3 linked regions of the Homo sapiens genome follow. The protein of the gene in region 1 interacts with the protein of each later gene in a biochemical or structural test. Each region holds a gene or a part of one and is shown in the gene's direction. Other genes may lie near its edges.

Region 1 (8,023 bases):
CAACATGGTGAAACCCCATCTCTACTAAAAATACAAAAATTAGCCAGGCGTGGTGGTAGGCACCTGTATTCCCAGCTACTTAGGAGGTGGAGGCAGGAAAATCGCTTGAACTCAGGAGGCAGAGGTTGCAGTGAACCAAGACTGCACCACTGCACTCTAGCCTGGGTGACAGTGCAAGACTCCGTTTCAAAAAAAAAAAAGGAAATATGAGACTCTCTTTTTATGAGTAGAAGGTGTCTTTCACCTGTAGCACAAAGTGGAGGTTCAGAGCATGAACGGATTCTGTAGCCAGGCCACCTGACTCTGCCACTTGCTGGTTGTGTGACCTTGGGCAAGTTACATAACCTCTCTGTGCATCATTTCCTAATCTGTAAAATGAGGATAATAGCTGGGCACAGTAGCTCATGCCTGTAATCCCAGCACCTTGGGAGGCTGAGGCAGGTGGATCACGAGGTCAGGAGTTTGAGACCAGCCTGGCCAATATGGTGAAACCTTGTCTCTACTAAAAATACAAAAATTAGCAGGGCGTGGTGGCGTGTGCCTTTAGTCCCAGCTACTCGGGAAGCTGAGGCAGAAGAATCACTTGAACCCAGGAGGTGGAGGTTGCAGTGAGCCAAGATGGCGCCACTGCACTCCGGCCTGGGCAACAAGACGGAAACTGTGTCTCAAAAAAAAAAAAAAAAAAAAAAAAAAAGATTATAGAGAAACAACCAAATGATTTTTCTAATGATAAAGTCTTTTAGACTTTATCTGATTAAAGAAAGTCTGATTAGCAGACTGTGAACTGCTAATCAACAGAATCTGGAGACATGCCACTAAATCTGAGTCACTGTCAACATGTGAGTCCACACCTACAGGAGGGGTGGTTCCTTGTATGAAAAACAGCCTCAGTAAATCACTGAAACTCTGCTGGCAAACATTTTTAATGCAAGTAATGCACCTCAATTTCACCCCCCTGCTTACAATCCTGTTTGAAACAATTCCAAACAAATGACCAAGAAACCACTTTGGACCAAAAGAAAGCTGGTATCTTACAGTAACAAATACTGTAGCTTGAATGCAGTTCTCCATGAGAAATTAGTGAAAGGGAGCATCCATTCCCTTAGAAATCAGTTAATATTGCCATTAATAAGAGGTTGGGCAACTGGGCACGGCAGCTCACGCCTGTAATCCCAACACTGTGGGAGGCCAAGGTGGGTGGATCACTTGAGGTCAGGAGTTATGGCAAAACCCTGTCTCTACTGAAAATACAAATATCAACCAGGCATGGTGGTGGGTGCTGGTAATCCCAGCTACTTGAGAGGCTGAGGCATGAGAATCACTTGAACCTGGGAGGTGGGGGTGGGGGTTGCAGTGAGCTGAGATCGCGCTGCTGCACTCTAGTCTGGGCAACAAGAGGGAAACTCCGTCTCAAAAAAGAAAGAAAGAAAGAAAAGAGGTAGGGGAACCCTTTTTTATAGAGCTTTGCTCAGGAACCAAAAATTCAAGTTTATTTTAAACCTTTCGTCTATGCTTGAGGTATCTGGATTTCTGCTTTTAATATCATATTGTAAAGATTTAAAGAGAAAACATCTCTGTAGACATTGTTAATTTTGTAAATACTGATGTAATTTCTTGTGTTTTTCCATATCATCTACTGAAACTAAATAGCTCAGAATTAAAAAAAAGAGCCCTTTTATTTTGCCAGTCTATAAAGCTTCTGATGACAGGTAGAAGAACCTGGTGGTTAAGGACTTAGGTTTTGAGGTCGGTGGATGTGAGATTGAATCGTGGACAGGTTTTGAGGTCGGTGGATGTGAGATTGAATCGTGGACAAGATCTCAGTTTGTATAAAGGCATGTATATCGGCCTCATTTATACATATTCTTAGAGGGCTGTGAGAAGTAAATGTGTTTATATGTATAGAATTTAGTACCCATGGCCAGGCGCAGTGGCTCATGCCTGTAATCTCAGCAGTTTGGGAGGCCAAGGCGGGTGGATCACTTGAGGTCAGGAGTTCGAGAGCAGCCTGGCCAACATGGTATGAAACCCCGTCTCTACTAAAAATACAAAAATTAGCCAGGCATGGTGGTGCGTGCTTGTCAATCCCAGCTACTCAGGAGGCTGAGGCAGGAGAATTGCTTGAGCCCAGGAGGCAGAGGTTGCAGTGAGCTGAGATTGCGCCACTGCACTCCAGCCTCGGCAGCAGAGCGAGACTCTGTCTCAAAACAAAAACAAACAAACAAAAAAGAATTCAGTACCCACGCTGGCTCAGATGTTGATGGTTACTGTTGTGAATCTGGCTCTACGGGGACCAGTCACTTCATCACTCTTTAAAGACAAGACACTCCTAAATTATCTACCAGGCCATTTTATTTAGAAGGCCTTAACATGATTGATACATTTAATTTAATTTTATTTTTTTGAGACAGAGTGTTGCTCTTGTCCAGGCTAGAGTGCAATGGCACCATCTCAGCTCACTGCAACCTCTGCCTCCTGGGTTCAAACGATTCTCTTGCCTCAGCCTCCCAAGTAGCTGGGATTACAGGTGCCCGCCACCATGCCTGGCTAATTTTTGTATTTTAGTTGAGATGGGGTTTCACCATGTTGGTCAGGCTGGTCTAGAACTCCTGACCTCAAGTGATCCACCCACCTCGGCTTCCCAAATTGCTGAGATTATAGGCATGAGCCACCTCACCTGGCCGATGCATTTAAATGTGGGATTAAATATTCACACCTAGTTCAAGTGTTCACATCTGTACTTGAAACTAAAACTTGTTAACAAGGCATAAATACTGTATTAGTCTGTTTTCATGCTGCTGATAAAGACATACCCGAGACTGGGCAATTTACAAAGGAAAGGTTTATTGGACTTACAGTTCCACATGGCTGGGGAGACCTCACAATCATGGCAGAAGGTAAGGAGGAGCAAGTCACATATCACGTGGATGGCAGCAGGCAGAGAGAGCTGGTACACGGAGACTCCTGTTTTTAAAGCCATCAGATCTCGTGAGACTTATTCACTATCATGAGAACAGCACAGGAAAAACTCATCCCCAAGATTCAATTACCTCCCATTGGGTTCCTCCTAGGACACATGGGGATTGTGGGACTTACAATTCGAGATGAGATTTGGGTGGGGACACAGCCAAACCATATCAAATACTGTTTAATTTGAGTCTAGGAGAAATCTTAAGGCCTTAAACTTAGACTTTATAAAAGCAGAGGCTAGCTCCATCTGGACTGTTTATTCCTTCAGAATATTATGCCTACTTGTATTCCCAATGCCTGACTCAGGGCTCTCCCATAGTCAGTGCTCAATGAATATTGGTAAGGAAAAAAATGGTTCAGTGAGGAGATTTTTGCAGTAATTCAGGTGACTGATGACATTTGACCTTTGTGAATGAATCTCCAATTCTGCAATTGGGTGGATTCTCTGCCTATAGGTACAAGAGGAAGAGGACGAGAAATATTTCCTGTTCTCTCAATAACTTTCCAAATAACATGTCATAAGAAGCCTCCTCATTCTACTCTCCAACATATTAAAAGCCTAGGATTGAGCCAGGTGCAGCGGCTAACGCCTCTAATCCCAGCACTTTGGGAGGCCAAGGCAGGCGAATCTCTTGAGCTCAGGAGTTTGAGACCAGCCTGGGCAACTAAGTGAGACCCCCGCCCTGCCAACCCCCTCTACAAAAAATACAAAAAGTTAGCTGGGCGTGGTGGCATTTGTCAGTAATCCCAGCTACTCAGGAGGCTGAGGTGGGAGAATCGCTTGAGCCTGAGAAGCGGAGGTTGTAGCGAGCTGAGATTGAGATTGTGCCACTGCACTCCAGCCTGGGCGACAGGGCGAGACTCCATCTCAAAAAAAAAAAAAAAAAAAAAAAAAAAGGCATAGGTCCATAGCCCTTTAGAACTGGAAGAAGCCTTCTAGGCCAAGCCCTTCATTTGAACTGAGCCTTGACGGGTATTAGCCGTTAGCCATTTGTGGAAGGTCGCACAGTAGTCAGGACTGGAAGTCTGGTCTTTGAAACCTGTCAGTCCACGGTCATTTCACCTGCCTGTTTGTAAAACAATGTCCTGTTACTTAAGTATACTTTTTAATAAGAAAAACTGGGTGTAAGCAAGAGTATCAGAGTGGTGTTCTGGTGCCAGCAGTTCAACTTCTGCAGCGTGTACTTCACAGGCACAGGTACTTAGGACGTCGCACAGGCACAGGTACTTAGGACGTTGCCCCGCCGAGACTGTCGTTCATATCGCGCCCACCTCCGGGTAACGCCGGTAATGCTGACCTAGCTCCATTATTTGTATTAATTTATTTAGCTAGCAGGGGGAACGGCTGGGTAATGCAGTCTCAGCTGCTGGAGGGGAAGAGGCAAGACTCCGCCGGCGCCCACCATCAGAGCGTGACAACAAGCGGGACCGGAGGTTGGGAAAAAGCACAGGGACAGAATGAATGTGTGCATGGGGGAGCTCTGCTGGGGAGAGGGCAAGAGGCTGTGATCAGATTATCTGAGGTTTCAGAACTTTTATATAAAGACCAAGGAACCAAATGAAAATCCAACTCTTCCAGGGAGCCCTGGAAAGTTCAAAGGACCTCGTTTGAGGGAGCGAGTCCCCGCAGCTCGTGCCCACGTCTCCCTCGCGCTTCCCCCAGGACAGGGGCCGCCCCAACCCGGGCACGCTGAGCCCGGCCGCGCCCCTAGCCCCTTCTCTCTCGGCCTCCTCGTCCCGAAGGGAAGCACAGGCTCGAGCAGCATTCGGGGCTCATCCATCAGCCGCGGAGGCAAAGGGGGAGGAGAGAGGAGGCGGGAGGCGGGAGGCGGGAGGAGGAGTTTCTGGGCGGCCGAGAGCCCCCGGTGGGGCCGGCGGAGGAGCGCCCTTCCCCCCGCGCGCTGATTGCTGTGGCGTCCTGCCCGTCCCCGCCCGCGTGTGTGCGAGGGAGGGCGAGTGCGCCGGGTCGGCCTGATGGGGGTAATCGAGGGTTTCGGGGACGCCGAGCGGCACTTTCCTCTTCCCAGCGAGTGAAGGAGGGCAGTCGGCGGCTCTCGCGCCCCGGCCACTTTCCCTGCGCGATTCCCGGAGCTCCCTGCAGGAGGTGAGAGTCCCCAGCGGGTCCGGATGGCGTAGTTTTGCCGCGGCGCAGCAGCTGCCGGAGCTCGCCGCCGCCGAGCGCTGGGCGGGGAAACTTGCCGCCGCTTTCCTCCAACTTGCTGCGGGTGGATCTCCGCTGGACACACCGCCTCCGAGGTACGTGCCGGCCCAGCCCCGCGGCGCTGCAGCCCGCCCGGGCTGTGGGCTCTGCAGGCTGCGCGGGTGCCCGTCGGCGCGGCGCGGGCTGCCAGTGCCTACTTACCGGCCAGGGTCGCTCCAGCCGCCAGGACCTCCGGCCTTGGGAGGGAGGCGCTGGTGGGGCGGTGTTTACCCTCCGGGGAGCAGGCACCGGTGGCCAGCGGTGCGTGGGCAGCGGCCGCACGGGGCAGGCAGTGCCCCCGGCGATGCGCAGTGCTGGGGAGGAATTCTCCACGCCCGCCCTCACTCTTCCTCTCCGCGGGTCCTTCTGACCCCTGCGGGGCGCGGCGGCCACTTCCCTCCGGGCGCGTGACAGCTTCGGTGGGAATGGTTTGTTGTGGGTTCGCAGTCAATTGCCGTGGCCCAGGCTGTGGCTCCCGGACTCGTGCACGGACGCGGTTTGCGTTCCCCGCTGGCCGCGCCCTCAGGGTGCCTTGCGGGCTGAGCCGCAAGCTGCAGCTCGGCCCCCCCCCGCCCCGGTTTATTTTGAAGGCTCTCTTCTTGTATTCATTTGGTTAGGACAAACTTGGAAATCTTGGACTGTCGCTAGAAGAATCTGCTTGCAGACTTGATCTTATTAGGGCATTTGCCCCGCTTTGCAGAATCGCATAGTGTCAGGAGCCGACGTGTCAAGCATGAATTACCTTGGCAAAGTAGAACTTAGTGGATTTGGTGTCCTCACGAAAAGCTGGAAGAAGAAAACCGTTCCATTTCCCTAGCTGTGAAGTGAGGATAGTAGTACTTGCCCCGTAAAGTTGCTGTGAGCATCTAATGATTTAATGTGTGTGAGGTGCTACAACAGTGCTTGGCACCGAGTAAGCACCGCACGGAGGTTAGCGCTGCTTGCCGCTAGCCCTGCGGTGGCAGGATAGGAGCGGCGAGGGCAGAGGATAGTAGGAGTGACAGGCTGTGCTGGGGAACCAGGCGTATTCTGAGTTTTATGTCCTTCCGAAGAAGTGAGCGGTTTGGGAGAAGTCTCCACAGGTAGTAAAAACACACGTCAAGACCGTTTCTTCTTCCTGAATGCAGAGTGCAAACAGTTACTTCAGTGTGAACTCAGTTGTTTCTTTTGGATAATAATAACAGCTAACGTTTTCTAAGCCCATACTGTGTGCACTTAATCCTCACAGCATCTCTATGGGAAAAGCACTATTAATAACCCTATTTTACAGATAAGACACTAGAGGTTAAGTTACTTGTCCAAGATCATACATAACTTTCTGTTAGTTCTGACTCCAAAGCTACCTTCCTTCCTCAGCGGAGAGCGGCAAGTGCAGGCCGATTTGTGTGTACATAGATTTGTGTGCATAGTCCATGCATCTTCTCCCATCTTTCAGCTTTCTATTTGAGCTGAACGCATATCTCTTGAAACACACATAAGGTATCTGTGATGAATTTAGGCGATTTTACATACTTATGAGGGTGCCCAATTAAAGTTCCTCTGAAACTGGCCCCAAATAATTATAAATAGAACTCTGACTTGTATTAATTAACATGGAAATTTTTTTTTTTTTTTGGTGACAGAGTCTCGCTCTGTCCCCAGGCTGCAGTGCAGTGGTGCGATCTCGGCTCACTGCAACCTCCACCTCCCGGGTTCAAGAGTTTCTCCTGACTCAGCCTCCAGAGTAGCTGGGACTACAGGCGCGCGCTACCACGCCCAGCTAACTTTTGTATTTTTAGTAGAGACGGCGTTTCACCATGTTGGCCAGGATGGTCTCGATTTCTTGACCTCGTGATCCACCTGCCTCGGCCTCCCAAAGTGCTGGGATTACAGGTGTGAGCCACCACGCCTGGCCAACATGGATCTTTATTCTTAATTTCTTTTATTAATTCTCCAGACATTGTTGATCACCATTACTTGGCTTCCTTAGGAAACAGCTTGGGGTTGGCACAGGAGGCAGGGAAATAATTCTTACCCCCTTAAGGGCTATTAACATGAAATTGATTTCATGCCATTGTGTCAGTTAAAGGATGTTGCTCTATTTCTTGCTGTTCTTTGCTTTTGGCTTTATTTCTGCATTGTTTAGTGTTTCAAGGCTTGAGCGTTTTTTTTTTTTGGCCCTTCAGTTTGACATTTGTCAACTTTAATTTTTCCTGTTTTGATGGAATCTGACCGTTACACGGCAGCTTTGCCTAACAACTGTTGATTCAGCTCATGTTTTTAAATATAAAAATCACCAACATAGTTTTGAATCCCAGCACTTCAAAGGCAACCCGTGGGGAGTTCATTGTTATTTTGAATATTAGTCAATAGGGGGAGCATAACACACTGTTGATATCTATAAGGCGCATAAACCCGTTTTTAGAGTATTAAACATATAGTTTGAAAGGGGAGGGCAAAATATCTAGCAAAATAACTAAGTTGCTTTTGGAGTTTATAATGGAGGACTAGATTTAATTTGAACTGATTAAGAATGACCTTGAGGACAGGGCCTGTATGTTGAATATATGTCAAGAACTCCATGGTGGCTGGACAGATAGATAAACACACATATAGTTTTTTTTCAATTTGTTTCCTTAAGTGGTGTGTAGGCCAGGCACAGTGGCTCACACCTGTAATTCCAACACTTTGGGAGGCTGAGGTAGGAGGATCACTTGGCCAAGGAGTTCGAGACCAGCCTGGGTAACATAGTGAGACCCCCATCTCTTTAAAAAGTGAAGTTTGTATGTAAACTAATTTTGTGTGGTTTGAATAATATTTCAACTTACCTGGGAGAAATGGAAATCCAGAGGAATTTGTTGTGAATCCTTTTGT
Region 2 (7,287 bases), on another chromosome or scaffold:
GGGGTCCTCTGGGTTTGGATGATTGCTTCGAGCCTCAGGGTGTTTGTCCCCGGGGTGTTTGGGTAGAGATGGCGAAGTCGTTGAGAGTCATTTCTGGTTTTCCATTATGTTTGCAAGGAACTCAGCCTTGATGATCTCTGGAGTTCAGGGAAGTTCTCTTTTCCTTTCATATTCCCATTTTGGGTAACTGCGGAACGCCTGAGGTCAGAGGCTTGTCTGGGAAAAGGTGCAGGCCTCTTTTGGCTCAGCGCTGGACAGTGATCTTACCCCACATGGGCTCTATTTTACAGCCTTTTCTTAAAGCCAAAGATTTGACACTGTAACCACAGAACCTTAGAGCCCAGAGGACCTTTGGAGTCCTTACCTACAGGCCAGCTTAGGATGAAACCTTCCCATTTCAGTGAATACTTATCTTGTTCATAAAGATTTTCAGAAAAAGGGATTTGTGATCCAGGTCTCTCATTTATCTTACAGATCTGGTGCCCCTTCCTGAGACCCGAGCCACTCCTGTAGCTATGTAAATTAATTCCTCATGTTCCTGTCCTCAGTGAGGATGGACAACAGTTGGCAGCTGTCCTTCGCAAAATCGATCTCCATTTAGTTGAGACTCTTTCTAAGTCAGTCTCCAGTCTTTTCCTTTTTTTTCAGATGAAACGGGTTGATGAATTTAGATTTTCTTTCCAGAGCTTATTTGCTATTTATCATATGCTTCATTATCTCATCTGAATTTTATAGTGAAAACACTTCAAAGACTCTAAGTGCAATGTGAATGTTAACAATTATACAGTCTTGTTTCTTTGGCTCCCATTCAGGCTATCTTAAGTTGTGACACCTTAAATTTTTGGTAGGACTTCTGCGTTATCTTGGTCCATTCACATTTTAAGAGGAAACTCACACCCCAAGATTCTAAGTCTAGAATCTAAAGTGACAATCCAGGGCTGGGTGCAGTGGCTCACACCTGTAATCTTAGCACTCTGGGAGGCCGAGGTGGGCGGATCACTTGAGGTCAGGAGTTCGAGACCAGCCTGGCCAACATGGTGAAACCCTGTCTCTACTAAAAATACAAAAATAGCTGGGCATGGTGGCATGCACCTGTAATCCCAGCTACTTGGGAGGCTGAGGCAGGAGAATCTCTTGAACCCCGGAGGCAGAGGTTGCAGTGAGCCAAGATGGGGCCACTGCACTCCAGCCTGGCCAACAGAGCGAGACTCTGTCTCAAAACAAACAAACAAACAAATAAACAAGCCGACAACCCGGAGATATGTGTTAGGTACCCACTTAGTAACAGGGATGCTTCATAGGTCCATGAAGATTCCTAGGAATCTCAGCAAGGGCTTTCTGCCCCTTGGAAGATTTCTATACAAGGGTATGGGGATCTGAACACGGGGCATCTTTCAGTGGGCATCCTTACAATAATAATGAGTTCTTTTGATACTGGCTTCTCCATCTGCTCTTCCCCTTTCTGCACCTGGACATCAGAATTAAGCTGCACTTGTCCCCCACACCTCCCTCGCAGACTGCACTGCCCCTCCTCCTGGGCAGTGATGGGGCGTGTGGAGGAGGCAGCCTCCAAGGGCTCTGCTCTCTTCAGACAGGAGATTGTCACTTTCCTTCCCTTCTTCAGGCGTGGACAATGAGGATGACCATGGCCGTGGAGATCTGGGGCGCCTCAAGAAGCAGAAGGATCACCACAACCCTCATCTAATCCTCATGATGATTCCCCCACACCGGCTCGACAACCCGGGCCAGGGGGGTCAGAGGAAGAAGCGGGCTTTGGACACCAATTACTGCTTCCGGTGAGACTGGGCCCACATGGGAACCAACATCTACTGCCTGCCTACTGCCCAATGGCTAGGTCAGGCCCCAGAGCCAAGCCACACTCAACAGAGGGTCCCTGATGCTATTCACAAACATCTCCAGGAAGAAGACTGAAAATCTCTCACAGAGATTTTCTCTGTGAAATCTCTTTCTGTTTTCCTGGGAGTCCCACTGTTTTTCCATAGGCTAACTCTGGAAGGAGCTGGCTGAAGTAAATGAGGAAAACTCTGTGAGGAGGAGTGTTGCTAAAATAGTTTGGATTGGAGAGGCTTGGTCAAAGCCTCTCCATGATTTCCATGTTTTAAGCACTTGTAGAGTGTATGTGTGAGATTAATGTAGGAGTTTCCATTAAAGAAGTGCTCAGTTAGTTCCCTATGAAGGGTCCAAGGATGCTACTGGATGGAGGCAAATAGAATGGTCTCCATTTGAACGGAAAGTTGGAGCTAGAGAAATTAACAAATGAATTCAGAAATTACTGGGTAGCCACAATAGAGAGATAGAAAAGACCCAGCTTCTCTTACTCAGGAGCAGTTTCACTGCTCATTTATAAAGGGAGGATAAAGTATGCATGCCAACTACTAAAAGGGAGAAGATGATCACGCCCATGAGAGGGTCCGAAGGATTAAGTGCTTTAACTGGGAGCAATGAGTTCACCTATGGACACAGGAAAGGCTTCAGAAGGGTGTGGAATTTGAGCAGAGGCTTCAAGGATGAGGTTTGGGGATGAAGGGATCCAGGAGGGGAAGCACTGCAGGTAAAGGAAGGAGCATGAGTGAGTGAGTCCATCTGGCCTCAGAGGATGCCGAAATGAAGCTGGGGAGAACGAATTGGGAAATATTTAGATCTGGAAACCATGTCTTATGAGGATGGTTGGGCTTGGGAAACTAGGGATGTTCAGTTGGGGGAACAGCTCAACAGCAAGGTATAGGAGAGGCAAGGTAGTTGCCACAAAGGCTGGCATGTAGATTTATTTATTCCATCAGTTAGGAACAAATCAGTTAGGAACGAATCAGTTATCAGTTAGGAACGAATCAGTTAGGAACGAATGATCTTGGCCAGTGACTTTAATCATAGTGATTTCTTGTTCACAAGAGGCCTGTAGCAGCAGGGTTAGGGTGGGCTGGCTGCTTAATGATGCCACCGAAGACTCAGGCTTTCTCTCTTTCCAGTCTGCCATGCTTAGTATGTTGGCTTTTCATCCTTTTCCTTATGGTCACAAGTGATTGCTAGGGCTTCAGGCACCTTGTCCACATTTAAGACAAGAAGGAATGAGGGAAGGGGAAGAGCCAGAAGCTTTCTTCTTCCATCTGTCACTTTTATAAATAATCGAATATCTTTGCCAGAACTTGCCCTTACCCCCTGCATACTTCTCCTTGTCTGATGGGTCATTACTGGGTCACATGACCACCGCTACTCTCAAGGGAGGACAGGAAAAGGAGCATCTGGTGTTTTCGACTCTGTAATGGGATGTCACAAGGGAGAAGGGAGTTAGGAATGGTTATTGAATAGATAACCAATGGTGTCTGCCATGGTTCACCCTTGGAACCCACAAGAAGCCAGATTTTGGCTAATAGCTGCCTTTGGAAGTAGCAAGTTCTAAGTCTCAGCAGATATTAAAGCAGAGGCTAGCTGTCCACTTGGCAAGCGGTATTATTGCCAAATGATCTCTGTAGGCAACAGAATTGAAGGGGCCTGATAATCACATTTGGGTGATCTGTTGAACCACGGTTCTAATAGAAGGATATGCCTTATTTGGCTAAATGGCCTTTGGATTGAGTCTCAGCAGTCACCTACTATAGTAGTCAAGCTGCATAAACTTAGAATTGATTTCTGTCTGGGTGCACATTAGGAGGGTAAAAATAAAACCAACCTCAACAAAGCTGAGTTGGCTAATAACATTCAGTGCTTGGTTTTATGTGGAGCGCTTCATAGCACTGCTTTGTATTGTGATAGAAAAGGGTGCAGGGCCACCTTTGCCTCTTTACTCTTCCTCATGCAGCATTTATCTCTGTTTCTTACATCCTTGGGATCCTGGTCTTTAACACATGAATGTGCCTTTCTGGTTTCTTCTGCCCCATGCCCTTGAACCTGGGATTCCATTGATCAGAGCCACCTATGATGGCATGAAAGGACTCCAAGGGAGAATATGAGAGCATTCATGAAGTTTCTTTTATTGGTGGTTTTAAGTTGATTTTCTATAAATGTTTTTTGTTGTAGCAACTTGGAGGAGAACTGCTGTGTGCGCCCCCTCTACATTGACTTCCGACAGGATCTGGGCTGGAAGTGGGTCCATGAACCTAAGGGCTACTATGCCAACTTCTGCTCAGGCCCTTGCCCATACCTCCGCAGTGCAGACACAACCCACAGCACGGTATGGAGCAGGCTCATGCCATCTGAGGCACTGGGGCTGACCGACCAGACCACTTGTTAAAAAGAATGAGTGAAGGATTGAATGTTGAGTGAGCAAATGATGGTCTGGGGTGAGTAAAATTCCTCTGGTGAAGGTTCTGATCTTGGCACCCTGACTCAGTTCTACTCAGTCACATTCTGCCCTTTTAAATTCCTACCATAGTTTCAACCAGCTTTTTAATTTGCTTTGTCCAAAGCTCTCTGTACCGTAGAAATTAATTAACTGCCACGTGTTACCCTATGTCAGAGATATGTGCATGTGGCTGGCAAGGAACACTGAAGTAGAAAGGCTTCTATCAGAACTCTGATCATTCCAGCCTCTCGAATGTAGAAAACTTACTCTGAAAGACAACAACAAGGATGGACAAGAAGCTAATTTGAAATGCTAGGAACAGAAAGTGAGATAGCCGAGAGTCCACAACCCCTGAAACTAGTCTGTCTTTCCCTTGAGGGGAATCAAAAATAGGGCAGTAATTTGTGAAGCATGTTTCCTTCTAGCTCATTGTTTCTGCATCCTGTCTGGGGCCCTGCACGCTGCACTTACTAAATGGCTCAAGGCAATGTTTTGTGAGAACATTTCTCACCGAAGTGATCAGTTCCAGCTAGGAAGAGCAATGTAAGTGTTTTCTTAAAAGCCAAGATAGGCCGGGCACGGTGGCTCACGCCTGTAATCCCAGCACTCTGGGAGGCCAAGGCGGGTGGATCACAAGGTCAGGAGTTCGAGACCAGCCTGGCCAACATGGTGAAACCCTGTCTCTACCAAAAATGTAAAAAATTAGCCGGGTGTGGTGGCACGCGCTTGTAATCCCAGCTACTTGGGAGGCTGAGGCAGGAGAATCGCTTGAACCCAGGAGGCGGAAGTTGCAGTGAGCCAAGATTGCACCACTGCACTTCAGCCTGGGTGAAAGAGTGAGACTCTGACTCAAAAAAAAAAAAAAAAAAAAAAAAAAAAAGCCAAGATAATTCGTTATCAGTGTAGTAACTGTCATATGCTTCAACTCATCACCCCAAACAAGTGCAGTTGTTCTGCTTCTGTCATTGTGGATGAACAGCAACTACACAACTACTCACTCACCCAAACCAGGTTCCAACAGTTTTTTTTTTTTTCTTTTTTTTGAGACAGACTCACTCTGTGGCTCAGGCTGGAGTGCGGTGGCACTATTTCTGCTTACTGCAACCTCTGCTTCCTGGATTCAGGTGATCCTCCCACCTCAGCCTCCCAAGTAGCTGGGATTACAGGCGCCTGCCACCACAGCCAGCTAATTTTTTTGTATTTTTAGTAGAGATGGGGTTTCACCATGCTGGCCAGGCTGGTCTCAAACTCCTGACCTGAAGTGATCTGCCTGCCTCTGCCTCCCAAGTCCTGGGACTACAGCTGTGAGCCACTGCACCCGGCCCCCAACAGTTCCTCTTAAAGAGCACCCGTGGCCATTCTAGCACTTGCTCAGCTTCTGGGACTGCCCCTGGAACTGGGCGACTTCCTGGGTTCCAGGCCTGAGACTTGGCCTTCCAACCTCTCACTGACATGTCCCTTCCCAGGTGCTGGGACTGTACAACACTCTGAACCCTGAAGCATCTGCCTCGCCTTGCTGCGTGCCCCAGGACCTGGAGCCCCTGACCATCCTGTACTATGTTGGGAGGACCCCCAAAGTGGAGCAGCTCTCCAACATGGTGGTGAAGTCTTGTAAATGTAGCTGAGACCCCACGTGCGACAGAGAGAGGGGAGAGAGAACCACCACTGCCTGACTGCCCGCTCCTCGGGAAACACACAAGCAACAAACCTCACTGAGAGGCCTGGAGCCCACAACCTTCGGCTCCGGGCAAATGGCTGAGATGGAGGTTTCCTTTTGGAACATTTCTTTCTTGCTGGCTCTGAGAATCACGGTGGTAAAGAAAGTGTGGGTTTGGTTAGAGGAAGGCTGAACTCTTCAGAACACACAGACTTTCTGTGACGCAGACAGAGGGGATGGGGATAGAGGAAAGGGATGGTAAGTTGAGATGTTGTGTGGCAATGGGATTTGGGCTACCCTAAAGGGAGAAGGAAGGGCAGAGAATGGCTGGGTCAGGGCCAGACTGGAAGACACTTCAGATCTGAGGTTGGATTTGCTCATTGCTGTACCACATCTGCTCTAGGGAATCTGGATTATGTTATACAAGGCAAGCATTTTTTTTTTTTTTTTAAAGACAGGTTACGAAGACAAAGTCCCAGAATTGTATCTCATACTGTCTGGGATTAAGGGCAAATCTATTACTTTTGCAAACTGTCCTCTACATCAATTAACATCGTGGGTCACTACAGGGAGAAAATCCAGGTCATGCAGTTCCTGGCCCATCAACTGTATTGGGCCTTTTGGATATGCTGAACGCAGAAGAAAGGGTGGAAATCAACCCTCTCCTGTCTGCCCTCTGGGTCCCTCCTCTCACCTCTCCCTCGATCATATTTCCCCTTGGACACTTGGTTAGACGCCTTCCAGGTCAGGATGCACATTTCTGGATTGTGGTTCCATGCAGCCTTGGGGCATTATGGGTTCTTCCCCCACTTCCCCTCCAAGACCCTGTGTTCATTTGGTGTTCCTGGAAGCAGGTGCTACAACATGTGAGGCATTCGGGGAAGCTGCACATGTGCCACACAGTGACTTGGCCCCAGACGCATAGACTGAGGTATAAAGACAAGTATGAATATTACTCTCAAAATCTTTGTATAAATAAATATTTTTGGGGCATCCTGGATGATTTCATCTTCTGGAATATTGTTTCTAGAACAGTAAAAGCCTTATTCTAAGGTGTATGTCTGACTCGATAAATATCCTTCAATTACCCTTAATTCCATGTCCGCATCTACTAATCAGAGGTAACCAGAATCTGGGGCAGAGAATCTGTCAATCACCAAACACATTGCTTAGCGCAACTCCCCTTACACAGGGGGCACACCGTGCTGACTTCCGCCTGCTAAGAAGACTGCACTATTGCTTGTGCGTCTTTCCTTCTTGCAGAGTATATTATTCTCAGAGACACAGAGGCAGTGGCTCAGATTGGCAGAAAGCACATACGAATTTGACC
Region 3 (7,287 bases), on another chromosome or scaffold:
ACTCCTGACCTTGTGATCCACCCACCTCAGCTTCCCAAAGTGCTGGGATTATAGGTGTGAGGCACCGCAACTAGCCTCATCTTATACTTTTTCTGAACTTCTTATTTTGGGCAATTTCAAACATATTCACAAATGGAAAAGAAATAGTAGAATGAATTCTCTATGTGCACGACCCTGCTTCAACAATTATCAGATCATAGGAAACTTAATTTATGTCTGTCATCCCTGACTCTGAATTATTTTCAAACAAGTCCAAGCATATATTATGTCCCCTCGTTTATTTTACAACTAAAGAAACAATTCACAATGCTTGCTCTCTCCCGACCCTTGAAGGGGAGGTGGGGAAAGACGGTGTGGAATTCTTATTCACTGGGGAAAGATTGAAAGTGTAGTGTATTTCCTTTGAGCAGGTAGAAACCTCACCATGCCCTAGATCACAACCCTCCCACCACCTCCTGCCTTACTTTCTTCCTAAGATTAATTGGTGGGGGAGGAATGGGTTGGGGGACAGAAAAAGCTGGCAGCTTCTCCAGTGAACTCTATTATCTGCCCCCTTCCTGCTACCCACCTAGTCATTTCACTGCCCAACTTGAAGTACAGTATAAAGGACCAGCAGACTGGACGTGGTGGCTCACACCTGTAATCCCAGCACTTTGGGAGGCCAGAACAGGAGAATCAGTTGAGTTAGAGAGTTAGAGACCAGCCTGGGCAACATAGCAAGATACTGACACTACAAAATAAATTTTTTTTTTAAAATCAGCCAGGCATAAGGGCGCACACTTGTAGTCCCAGCTACTCAGAGTCTGTTTTAGGATCCTTTGAGCCTAGGAGTTCAAGGCTGCAGTGACCTATGATCACACCATTGCACTCCAGCCTGGGTGACAGAATTAGAACCTGTCTCTAAAGAGAAAAAAATAAAAATTAAAAATAAAGAAATAACCAGCCATGTCTGGCCCAACACACATGCACACACACACACATACACACACACACATATACACACTCACAACAAACGCCCAATCCATGAACTTCTGCACCCACTCAGAAATACTTACAGAGCACTGCTTGCTCAAGTAGTGGCTTCCCAAAAGGTACCCCAGGGGGGCATTTGCTGATGCTAGGAAATCTCATTAAATTCTCCCCATCTTGGCTCTTTGGGTGAGTGAGTCAGTGGACTGAAGGCTGGGCCAAGGGTACTTCATGCCTTTCCCATTTTGTGGTTCACTTTTCTCCCAGTGAATATAACCATTAAATAGGTTGAATAGGCCTCCTTCCACCACAGCCACCTCCTTGCCTAATGAGAATGACAAGGAAATTGGATAAAATTGGACTCCTTCAAATCTGAGACACTTTCAATTGAATCTTAAGACAGGCAGTTTTAGAAAACTTAAAATACTTTGACTGTAAATGGCACTGTACATATAAATGGCATCAAATTAACTAAATGCAATTAGCCAAAATGAAGGCAGTAATGGTGGAAAAATTGATGCAAAGTGAAGCAAAATGGCTCAGTAGGATCTGACATTCAAAGGAGGTTAAAAGCTATGTTAGCCAGAGACAAAAGCTAAAAGGCTTGCAGAAGTAAAGTGCTAATTGAGAAAATGAAGACAGAGTTCCTGACCCAGAACTGTGATAAAACCCTTGAAAGGGAAAATATCAGTGCTTTATGTGTTAGAGTATCAGAGAAGGAGAGCTTGTCGTAGATTAACAGCTGAGAAGTGCGATTCCTTCAGAAGGGTTTGACTCTTTTGTTCTCTCAGCCACCCAGATTTACTTGGCAGTTGTGCCAGGTCAGCTCCGACTAGAAAGAGCCCCTGCAGTTCTAGAAACACAATCATTTGTGTAGAGAGATGGGTGAGCCCGACATCTGAAAGGCAGGAACTACTTGTTAACGGGAAAAAGATCCAGATGAAAAGAGCCCTTCACGAAGCTCCCGCGCATAGACTGACATTAGAGAGTAGATGGTGCTTTTTTTATAATATTATTTGGTGAAACTTTGCAAGCCAGACATTGGGTTGTTTAAAAAGAAAATGAACACTAGCTAGGTAAAATATCCTGCTGCTTATCGAAAGGCATCCCATTTGCTTGGTTTTCTGCATTTGACCTCAAAGAATGGAACTAGGTACCTCCTTTCAGAGGATTCCTGAAGTCTGGCATCTCTCCCTGGTTCAGTGAACAAGTGGTATTTGAGAAGCTCTGTTACAGGGCAGATGCTGACTTGGGCACTGGAAATACACGTGTAAAGGAAGAGGTCCCTACGCTTGAGGAACTCGCAGTCTGATCATGGTTGGGAAGCAACCACAGTGCAGTTCAGTGAGGGCTTCCAATGGCAGAGGCCAGTGACAATGGACCATGTAAAAGATGACGGAAGAGGGGTCAAGGAAAGCAGCCCTGTCTCAGACACCGGCTGAGCTAGGCTTATTTTACTGGCTCATGTTTGGTGTGCTTTGCACAGGTTTTTGTATGGGAAGCAGTTAGATAGAGGCAGAGTGTGCATGACTTTGGGAACTACCTCCTTGCCTAATGAGATTGACAAGGAAATTGATGAAATTGGATTCCTTCCATTTTCACTGAGTAGAGCAGAAGTTTGTGGATCGGGTGTTTATTGTGAGTGAGTGTGTGTGTGTGTGTGTTTGGCAGGACACTGCTGGTTCTTTATACTATACCTTAAGTTGGTGATGCAGTGACCAGGAGGAAAACAGGATGGGGGTGGATAAAAGGTCCATTGGAGGGGCTGCCAGCGCTCCCTCTTTGTGAAGAAGTGTGGATAGGCTGCAGGCAGTGAGCAGCCTCTGAAGAATTCTAAGCAGAGGAGCAACACGAGCAGTTTTAATTTATATATATATATATATATATATATATTTAAGACAGGGTCTCTGTTGCCTAGGTTGGAGTGCAGTGGTGTGATCTTGGCTCACTGCATCCTCCACCTCCCAGGTTCAAGCGATTCTCCTGTCTCAGCCTCCTAAGTAGCTGTAGTCCCAGCTACTTAGGACTACAGCTATGTAGGAGCTACTACAGATGCCCGCCACCACGCCCGGCTAATTTTTGTATTTTTGGTAGAGACATGGTTTTGTCATGTTGGCCAGGCTGGTCTCGGACTCCTGACCTCAGGTGATTCAGCCACCTCGGCTTCCCAAAGTGCTGGGATTACAGGCGTGGACCACCGCGCCCGGCCACACGAGCATATTTAAAGACCACAGTGTGAGAAGGCAGGGACCATAAGAACTTCCTCAGGCAGAGGATTCTTGAAATCTGGCATCTCTCCTACTGCACTGAACAGGCATCATTTGAGAAGCCCTGTTACATGGCAGGTGCTGTGTTGGGCACTGGAAATACAGGTATGAAGGAGGGGGTCTCTGTGCTTGAGGAACTTACTGTCTAGTTGTGGATGGGAAGTGATTATGGTGCAGTTGAGTGAGGATGTCCTATGGGAGAGCATCCCTCTACCTACGTCCACTTCTCTCCTTCTTTCTAACACCCATTCTCTGACTAGCCTCAATAAACTTTGAGCAATGAGCTCAATAAGTGGGATTAAGACATGGCAGCAGCATTGCCAATTTCAGTCTTTTTTCCGTAAGATTGAGGGGACAGAGGCACGATGGGTGTATTTTTTTCCCATCGTGGTGGATTCATCACAGTGAAATGGCACCATCCCACAGACAAGTAATCACATCTTGATAAATTAGTGGGCAAAACAAATCCTAAGTGTGAATGGATCAGCTCAGTCACAGAGGACACCTGCAAGGTCAGAGAGCGAGAGGGACATTCATCCTGCAGTATCAAACCTACTGCTAGAGCTGCCATTTGTGAACACCCTTCCTTTATGATTCCACCCGTTGGTTTGAAGAAGGGCGGGCTCTCACATAAGCAACCAGGTAAGGAAAGGAAGCTGCCCATGAACACGTCCACATCCACCTGGACACTGTTGACACAGGCAAGCGGAAAGGAGTATGTGCCCACGTGTGCACAGTGAGAAAGCACCTTGCAAACACACAAGTCTCTTGGGCAACAAACACAACCTCTTGCTGCCCACTGAGGCCCGAGCAGCAGATTCACACTTAATCAGGTGAGGTGTTAGAGAAGATGATTTCTATTTGCAGAGCCAACAGTGAAACATGAGCTGTGTTGACCAGGTGGTGGCAGGAGGAAATGTTCCCAGTGGGGGTCATTAAAAGCGAAGCCAAGAGAAAGTCCTCGCAGTTCAGCAAGTGTCTAAGTTGCCAAAATGGCACGTTCTAATGAACCTCAACAAGGCAACCTTGCCTCTCCTTGAGCCAGAAGCCCACATCAAATAGAAGCAGGGCTCACAGTAGAGATTCAAGCTCTCAGGTGTGTTTAAGGAATTCGAAAACCATGAAAACAAACTACGGGAAAAATAATCTGAACTTGAAAAGTATAAAAAAAAAGATTACTACATTATTAGGAAAAACTACAGGTTTATGATTATCAAGCAGTCATAGTGACAGAAATTTCATTAATCAGAAGTCCTGCTGCTCAAATGATAAATAAAAATACATCTCAATGATTTCATTTAATGCATGTGTTCACATGGGTGCCGCAGTGTGATCTTAAAGTTGCATAAAAACAGGGTTTCTTGGGCCCAGCGTGGTGGATCATGCCTGTAATCCCAGCATTTTGGGAGGCCAAGGTGGGAGGATTGCTTGAGGCCAGGAGTTTGAGACTAGCCTGGGCAACATAGCAAGATTCTATCTCTACTTAAAAAAAAAAATTAATCTTTTTAAGAACTAGCTGAGCATGGTGGCATGGGCCCGTAGTCATAGCTACTCAGAATGCTGAGGCAGGATGATCACTTGAACCAAGGAGTTTGAGGCTGCAATGAGCTATGATCACACCACTGCATCCCAACCTGGGCAACAGGAGTGTCTAACATAATAAATAAATAAATAAATAAGGTTTCTCTAAGAGCCAGGAGTTTTCAGTCCAGTCTATGCACAGACTTTGCTTTCAGTTTGCTTGTGATGGTGCAAATGCCAGCTTGAGGCATAGCATGTGTCCATATGAAAATGCATTCCATTATAAGTAGTATCCTAATTAGTGCCACTCAGCCTTCCCCTAATCAAATGTCCATTTTGCAAGAGCTGAGAGCAGGGCCTTAGGTGCCCATGAGGTCCCCAAGTGTGCACACTTATCCCTTTCCACTACGTATTTGGGTTCTTGGTGCTCAGCGCAGGAAGCTTTTGATTAGTGAGACTTGAAAGAAGAGAGATAAAAGTGTGGTAATCCTGGCCACTCTCCCTAACACAGTTCTTTGTCACAGCAGGAGATGGCAACTTCATCTATTCCCAAGCTGACGAAAATCAGAAGGGCAAAGTGGCTCGCCTGGTGAGCCCTGTGGTTTATTCCCAGAACTCTGCCCACTGCATGACCTTCTGGTATCACATGTCTGGGTCCCACGTCGGCACACTCAGGGTCAAACTGCGCTACCAGAAGCCAGAGGAGTACGATCAGCTGGTCTGGATGGCCATTGGACACCAAGGTGACCACTGGAAGGAAGGGCGTGTCTTGCTCCACAAGTCTCTGAAACTTTATCAGGTATGACCTCTTCCCAAGGCTGGGGAGGGCAGTGGCTGCAGGAATGCTGAGATGATATGTTGGAGGCTGTGCAAATGAGACATGGGAATTATTCCGAAATTATTTCCAGTGTTTCCCAACCCTGAGATATTGCTGCAATGATAACCACCTTAATAGCAGATTTCACAGTCTCCTAGATTGCAGGAATAGAACCAATTTGCTGAGAAGGAACACAAAGGGCTTCCGTGTCATCTATTTCTGGGCTTTCACAATGTATCATTCCTTTTGTTTGCTGCTTTCTCCCGTTTTAAAGTTTGTATTATAAGAAGAGAGTGTAAGGAGAAGGTGCATACCATCACCAGGCAGCTAATGTGGATTGATGAGTGAAGTCTGTGTTACGCTGAATCTGATGAATTTAATTTATGTGCCGTAGCTGGAGCTGAACAAGCATTTGTAAACACTGCCATGTGAGATGAGCATTTCAATACTGTGAAAATGATCTTATTTTGTTAGGTGATTTTCGAGGGCGAAATCGGAAAAGGAAACCTTGGTGGGATTGCTGTGGATGACATTAGTATTAATAACCACATTTCACAAGAAGATTGTGCAAGTAAGTATGAGCTGCTGTAGAAACCAATGGAGTGCTTGCCCAGGGCAAGACTCTTGCCAATATGATGGTCTTTGTTTTGCTCATTTCTACCTAGAATTTCGGTGTGGCCTCTCGGCACATCATAGGAAATGCGTATTCTGGTGCAACAGGGCATACAATCAGCCCAATTTACCTGTGTCTGCCCCGTCACCTACCCTAGGTCCTTCATAATGGCTGCTTGATACCTATAAAACTCCACAAATAATGCAGAATCCAAAGATGATAGCTAAGAAGACCCAGCTTACAAGCTATAGATGCCATACCGAAACATTTTGATGAACAGTGGAAAGTCAGACATCTGGATAATTCCAAATATCTGGGTGTATAAACAAAACAGCAGGCCTCTGAAAACTTTGATCAGAATAAGTTTAATTAAGAATGCATTGTTAATGAACCATAGAAGCCATAATTCTTTGCTTTATCACAAGTAGATGTTTCTGACTTTTAAAATATCTGAAATGACTTAAAGGACTTCAATGAGATTCAGAGACTTGGCCTAGTATTTCAGAGTTGGTCTTTATGGGTCTTGTACTAGGTGGATGTAAGACATAGAAAACCAATTCATATTCCCTAGTTCTTGATATATAATTACAAATAGCATTACTAATGGCAGTGTAATAGCACAGTAATTAGTCTTCAGCTCCATTTGCTACATTGAAACTTTTGTTATACATCATTATATAATAGGATGTTAATTATAACAAAATGGGATAAGCCTATTGGGCCAATTTAAGACAAAGGAGGTCTGTTGGCTGTAATGGGGGTTTTGGTCACTTCAGCAACTTACAAAGCTTTTATTATATAATATATTGAATATATATAATCCCTAAAGCGGCAATAATTTGATAGGATCCATCGAAGAAATTGGGCAAAAAGAAAGGAGCAATGAATAAAGGCTTGCTTCTTCATACTATTAAAGGGAATCTGCTTAGTGCTGCACTATTTAGCAAATCTTCACAAGAATGATAAGGCTTAATAGTTTAGTTGCAACTCCTTTACAAATTACCCACATCCATATCTACACTGCTGTAAAAATGTGTATTTCATGTAGTAACACAGTGTCTGTGATTTCTTCACTTCTCCATTCCAAAGTGAGAGTGATG

Evidence for each region.
Region 2: the proteins of TGFBR3 (region 1) and TGFB3 interact in a biophysical measurement, tested with the Homo sapiens proteins (one study listed by IntAct).
Region 3: the proteins of TGFBR3 (region 1) and NRP1 form a complex in vitro, tested with the Homo sapiens proteins (one study listed by BioGRID).

What each region holds. Positions count from the first base shown.
Region 1 is NC_000001.11:91,883,081-91,891,103, reverse strand, and holds the start of TGFBR3 (transforming growth factor beta receptor type 3 isoform a precursor), read left to right. Parts: upstream 1-4,952; 5' UTR 4,953-5,226; intron 5,227-8,023. UniProt on the Homo sapiens protein: Cell surface receptor that regulates diverse cellular processes including cell proliferation, differentiation, migration, and apoptosis.
Region 2 is NC_000014.9:75,957,825-75,965,111, reverse strand, and holds the end of TGFB3 (transforming growth factor beta-3 proprotein isoform 1 preproprotein), read left to right. Parts: intron 1-1,624; coding exon 1,625-1,796; coding exon of another isoform or gene 1,797-1,800; exon of another isoform or gene 1,801-2,051; intron 2,052-4,035; coding exon 4,036-4,189; intron 4,190-5,766; coding exon 5,767-5,925; 3' UTR 5,926-7,015; downstream 7,016-7,287. UniProt on the Homo sapiens protein: Transforming growth factor beta-3 proprotein: Precursor of the Latency-associated peptide (LAP) and Transforming growth factor beta-3 (TGF-beta-3) chains, which constitute the regulatory and active subunit of TGF-beta-3, respectively.
Region 3 is NC_000010.11:33,184,486-33,191,772, reverse strand, and holds part of NRP1 (neuropilin-1 isoform a precursor), read left to right. Parts: intron 1-5,281; coding exon of another isoform or gene 5,282-5,284; coding exon 5,285-5,556; intron 5,557-6,048; coding exon 6,049-6,145; intron 6,146-7,287. UniProt on the Homo sapiens protein: Cell-surface receptor involved in the development of the cardiovascular system, in angiogenesis, in the formation of certain neuronal circuits and in organogenesis outside the nervous system. Mediates the chemorepulsant activity of semaphorins.